2 separate regions of the Homo sapiens genome follow, and region 1 is linked to region 2. The links come from fine-mapping of genetic effects on gene expression. A gene starts in region 2. The other region holds a variant in brackets. All regions are shown on one strand. Distances are between the middles of the regions. Region 1 overlaps ZNF274 (zinc finger protein 274). Region 2 holds the start of ZSCAN18 (zinc finger and SCAN domain containing 18).

Region 1 (2,907 bases), 110 kb after region 2:
CACTGGAGACAACGCATGGTGACCCGGGAGCTGAGAAAGCAGGAGGCAAGAGGGAAGGGACTAAGTGTTTACAGAGACTTGAGAGGTGGAACTACCACAGGCAGGCACATCTGTATCCAGGTCAGAACAAGAGAGCCCTCAACCTTCAGAAATGCATACTTAGGTATTTATCTTTGGTATCTGGGATTTGCTTCAGAATAACCCAGAGCTGGGGTGTGGGTGAAAAAGATTGGTCCTGATGCGCTGACCACTGGGGTAGTGGTATGTATGTGTCATTGGTCAGACCTGTTTGCACTGCAAATGGCTTATACTGGCTCAAGCGTAGAAGTCAATTTATTGGCTCTCATGTATTCTCTGGTAGGCTTCAGGCAAGGCTGCATCCAGGTGCTCCCAGGTGATGGGAAGAATCTCTGGCCAACCTGTTTCATGGCTCTGCTTTCTCCCCTTTCTTCTTCTTTTTTTTTGAGATGGAGTTTCACTCTTGTTGCCCAGGCTGGAGTGCAATGGCGCGATCTCAGCTCACTGCAACCTCTGCCTCCCAGGTTCAAGTGATTCTCCTGTCTCAGCCTCCTGAGTAGCTGGGATTACAGACAGCTGCCACTACACCCGGCTAATTTTTGGTATTTTTAATAGAGACGGGGTTTCACCATGTTGGCCAGGCTGGTCTCGAACTCCTGACCTCAGGTGATCCACCCGCCTTGGCCTCCCAATGTGCTGGGATTATAGGTGTGAGCCACTGCGCGTGGCCACTCCCCTTTCTTCTTAGGCAGATTCTGCCCCATGTAAGCAAAATGCCTCAGATCCTGGCAAAGCAGCGTTGGGGGTACCTCTTCTTCCCAAAGTCCTGGTCAGTTCCCCAGAAAGGACCAGTCATGGCTGTGCCAGGGTGACTGCCCTCCCCCAGGTCAGCCCTGTCGACAAAGGCAGGGGCTTGGTTGTCATTTCCACCAAGTGGGAAGACAGTATTAATAGATGGAGAACCCTCTGCAGTGGGAAGATTTCAGCAATGGGCAAGCTGGATAGAGCCGTGGTTAGGATGGAGTTGTTTGCTTGTTGCACTTGGAGCTCTTTATGAAGCAAGGGCTCTGCCTCCCAGCCTGAGACCCAGACCCTGGTTTGGACCCAGTAGAACTCTTGTGGGCCCTGGGTTGGTGTCTCTGAGCAAATCCCCAAAGCAGGAGAGTCCCTAGCACCGTGAGCTCTGTCAGAACCTCCCAGCTGGCCTTTCTTCTGCCCTCATTGACAACCCTCTGACCCTCTTGCTGAGCATAGACACATATGTGATGTTACAGGAGCCAGTGACCTTCCAGGATGTGGCTGTGGACTTCAGCCGGGAGGAGTGGGGGCTGCTGGGCCCGACACAGAGGACCGAGTACCGCGATGTGATGCTGGAGACCTTTGGGCACCTGGTCTCTGTGGGTAAGGCTGTGCCCCCTCTTCACCCACCTCAGGGCTGGTAGGCCACAGGAGCCCCAAGTCAGGGGTGTTCACCTTCTCTAGACTCCACACTGGGCATTCCCTCAAGGGGCCCTTGCTGCATCCAGGGCCTGTAAGTGGAACTGTAGACCTAGAGGGGTGAGGTCACTGGGTGGCCAGAAGCAGCCTTAGGTCCGGTGAAGGAGTGATTTGCTATCTATCTCCTGAGGGAGTATGAGAGAACAGGAACTCGAAGAGCTCGGAGGACAC[TC/T]CCTGCCCTTCCTGTCCCTTGTTCACCAAGGTCAGTGCTCCCCTCCCTGCCGCTTCATTGCTTTTCAGTCTCTCTCCAGGTTGCATGACTCTATTTGGGAGAAAAAAAAAATCCTGACTTTTGAACTTAATTATGCATTTCATGCTCTCAGACCCATCCCAGCACATCTCTCTATGGGATCCACATCTTTTGTTTATTTTTTTCAGGGTGGGAGACTACACTGGAAAATAAAGAGTTAGCTCCAAATTCTGACATTCCTGAGGAAGAACCAGCCCCCAGCCTGAAAGTACAAGAATCCTCAAGGGATTGTGCCTTGTCCTCTACATTAGAAGATACCTTGCAGGGTGGGGTCCAGGAAGTCCAAGACACAGTGTTGAAGCAGATGGAGTCTGCTCAGGAAAAAGACCTTCCTCAGAAGAAGCACTTTGACAACCGTGAGTCCCAGGCAAACAGTGGTGCTCTTGACACAAACCAAGTTTCGCTCCAGAAAATTGACAACCCTGAGTCCCAGGCAAACAGTGGCGCTCTTGACACAAACCAAGTTTTGCTCCACAAAATTCCTCCTAGAAAACGATTGCGCAAACGTGACTCACAAGTTAAAAGTATGAAACATAATTCACGTGTAAAAATTCATCAGAAGAGCTGTGAAAGGCAAAAGGCCAAGGAAGGCAATGGTTGTAGGAAAACCTTCAGTCGGAGTACTAAACAGATTACGTTTATAAGAATTCACAAGGGGAGCCAAGTTTGCCGATGCAGTGAATGTGGTAAAATATTCCGGAACCCAAGATACTTTTCTGTGCATAAGAAAATCCATACCGGAGAGAGGCCCTATGTGTGTCAAGACTGTGGGAAAGGATTTGTTCAGAGCTCTTCCCTCACACAGCATCAGAGAGTTCATTCTGGAGAGAGACCATTTGAATGTCAGGAGTGTGGGAGGACCTTCAATGATCGCTCAGCCATCTCCCAGCACCTGAGGACTCACACTGGCGCTAAGCCCTACAAGTGTCAGGACTGTGGAAAAGCCTTCCGCCAGAGCTCCCACCTCATCAGACATCAGAGGACTCACACCGGGGAGCGCCCATATGCATGCAACAAATGTGGAAAGGCCTTCACCCAGAGCTCACACCTTATTGGGCACCAGAGAACCCACAATAGGACAAAGCGAAAGAAGAAACAGCCTACCTCATAGCTCTCAAGCCAGTTGAAGAAACCTTGCCTTT
Region 2 (2,907 bases):
CCACCTGAGGAATATTCATCGCAGCTCTCCATCCCACCACACTCATCGGCAGGGTCTAGCAAACCACCCCACAGCCACAGGCCTGAGGATCAGCCAGGGAAGCTCAATGCATGGGATGTGGTTGTTGATGGGTCGCCGGATATTCCCAGGGTCTGCCCTGGCTTCATCCACAGATCACTTACTCATTATAAAAAGGGGTAAAAGTGCTTTTAAAAGAATGAAAAAACATGGAGTAAGGGTCGTCGTTCACATCTCAGCTGCCTTTTGTGGTCCCTGATCCACTCGCCAGGACAGACAGAACCAGAGAGATGTCCTGCGCAACTGGCCTAGGCTCCCCGAAAACCCGAGGCCAGAAATACCCAGGAAGTCACAGATTCAAGCATCATGCACAGAAAACAGCAACTCGATGCGACACGTGGTCCCGCTCTGACTCCAGGGCAGGAAACCATCCGCAGGACATGATGGGATGGGGGAAGTGAAATGGAACCGAGGAGGTGACATGGAACCAAGTGACTGTGCCACTCAGCCTCGCCCAGGAGTCAGCAAGGACACAGGCGAATATATGGGAAAGTGGAAGGAGGGCAGACAGAAATGGGGGAAGCGGGGAGGGAAGGTAGCAGGGAGAGAGAAGACAGGAGAGGAAGGAGCAAGAGCAGGGAAAGCCAGATAGTCTGGACGGGGGTAGAGGGGGATTGGGAAAAGGAAGGAGCCCAGGAGGGTGAGAGAAAGGAAATGGGGAAGGAGTGATGGGAGGGTGAGTCAGGCCCCCACCCCAACCCCCTGGGTCAGGACCGAAGCCAGTACACCCACTCTTGCCTCTTCCACGAGAGAGGTCTCCGGGGTGGGCGCAGACACCTAACTCAAACAGAACCCACCCCCAGGTGACTGGGGAGAGGCGAGATATTCCAAGGGTGGGGGCAGCAGAGACAATGCCCATTCTAGGCACCCCTTTGGTCCCCGCACCCTCCATCCCTTCCCTGCTCCAGCCCCTGGGGCCACAGCCTGCCCAGCGTCCCCCCACCACGGACACCCTCACATCCTCACACCCTCAGCCCCCACTTCCTCCCCTCCTCTTCCCTTCAGGAGCCTCCCCCTCCCTTCTCTTCCCCACTCAGGAGCCTCCCCCTCCCCCTTTTCGCCCCCCTCAGGAGCCTTCCCCTCCCCCCTTTCTCCCCCATCAGGAGCCTCCCCCTCCCTCATCTCTCCCCCATCAGGAGCCGCCCCTTCCTGTTCTCCCACCCACAGGGTGCCCTAAGCGCCTCCCCTCCACGAGCCTACACGGGGTGGGGGTTGCACTAGTTCCCTACCTGCCTGCAGGGCCCCTCACCGATCTGGATCTCAGCCACCTCCGGGGGGACCCGGCCCCTGCCCCGCACTCCACGCGAAGGGATGCCAGACCCTCGGCCTCCTGGACGCACAGCGGGGGCTCGCACCCCAACCCCGGGAACACCCTGGCCCCTTTCCCTAACGCTGCCCACTGAGGCGTCCTCACCGTCTACCCTGTTGGGGTCGCTCTCTGACCCCCGCGCTGCATCCCCGGGACCGACCCACCTGCTGCGCAGCTACCCCAGGCCGGTCCCAGCCGCCCGGAGCCCCAGTGCGCGATGGCGGCCGGCAAACTGCGCCTGCGCACTGGGCCTCACCGCGGACTACGACTCCCACAATGCCGCGAGGCTGTGCCGCGCACCGGGGCGAGCAAGGGAGCCGTGACAGGTGACAGTGCGCATGGCCAATCAGACGCGAGTGTGGCCTCCCGGCGTCCCGCCCACTCCGGCGCCTGCGTCATTTTGGGCACCATGGCAACGAAGTAAACAAGCGGGTAAATAATAGACCCCTGACAGCCAGAGACCCGGAGAAACAAAGACGGTGAGAAACGGAGAAACAAAGACAAAAAGACGCGCAGACCGGGAGGGAGAGAAGCATGAAGGCCCACAGACGCTCGGGGGCAGACCAAGACGCCCTGGGGTCCCCGAAACAGAGATGTACAGAGTCGGACACGGAAAGGGAGAGACCAGCTCACGGTTAAGAAAGGAGGGAGACCAGCCCAGGATCAAGAAAGGGAAAGACCAGCATGGGCTCAAGAAAAGAAAGAGACCAGCTCAGGCTCAGGAAAAGAGAGAGACCCAGAGAAAAGGAGCACTCGAGGCTGAGACAGATCTGGACAGAGATACAGAGACAGGGACCAGCAGACCCAGTACTGGGGAGACAAGAGGTGGAGACCCAGAGACACTGATGCGCTAAAATGGGTTCTACAGTTTCAAGGAGTGGATAGAACTCAAAGATTACCCACCCCAGGGATTCAGGAGCTGCTGAAATGAGGGAAATGTGAGTGGCAGCTGGGGTGAGGGCTTTGGCAAAGCCCCATATAAATGTAGCCCCCCTGGAAGGCAGGATAGGGCCAGGAGCTGCTTCCCATTTCAGTTTTCCAGATAGAGGCGCTTATGAGGATGCCATTTTGGTCGTTTTTGTGTGAACTGATTTTTAAAATGTATATCTGAACAGTTTATATATTTTAAATTTACATACACCACACATTTTGGTATTCAGTTTTATGAATTTTAACTCATATCCACCAACAAACTCGGGACAAAGAATAGCTCCACTGCCCAAAAATCCTCCTGCTGCCTCTTGGTAGTCACTCCCTCCCCACCCATAACCCCAGGAACAGCTAATCTAAGTAGTCCACTGCTACAATTTTGCCTTCACAGTGTCATATAAGTGGGATCATACAGTATGTGGCCTCTTCAGATTGGCTTTTTCACTGAACATAATTCCTTTGAGAGGCATTGAAGTAGTATGTATCAACAGTTCATTCCATTTTATTGAGAAGTAGTATTCTATGGTATATAGCAGTTTAAACCTTCTCCCACTGAGAGATATTAGGATCGTTTTAAGTATTTTGCTATT

What was found.
Region 1: its variant is fine-mapped to the expression of ZSCAN18 in whole blood (INTERVAL, PIP 0.99).

What each region holds. Positions count from the first base shown.
Region 1 is chr19:58,210,268-58,213,174 of GRCh38, forward strand. ZNF274 (zinc finger protein 274) reads left to right here. Exons shown (of 8, transcript NM_133502.3): 7 at 1,293-1,419; 8 at 1,894-2,907. The coding sequence ends at 2,876. Among named protein-coding and RNA genes, the nearest start is that of ZNF544, 17 kb to the right of the region's middle. The variant TC/T (reference allele first, on the strand shown) is at 1,687.
Region 2 is chr19:58,096,623-58,099,529 of GRCh38, forward strand. It overlaps ZSCAN18 (zinc finger and SCAN domain containing 18), which reads right to left and starts at 1,609. Exons shown (of 7, transcript NM_001145543.2): 1 at 1,552-1,609.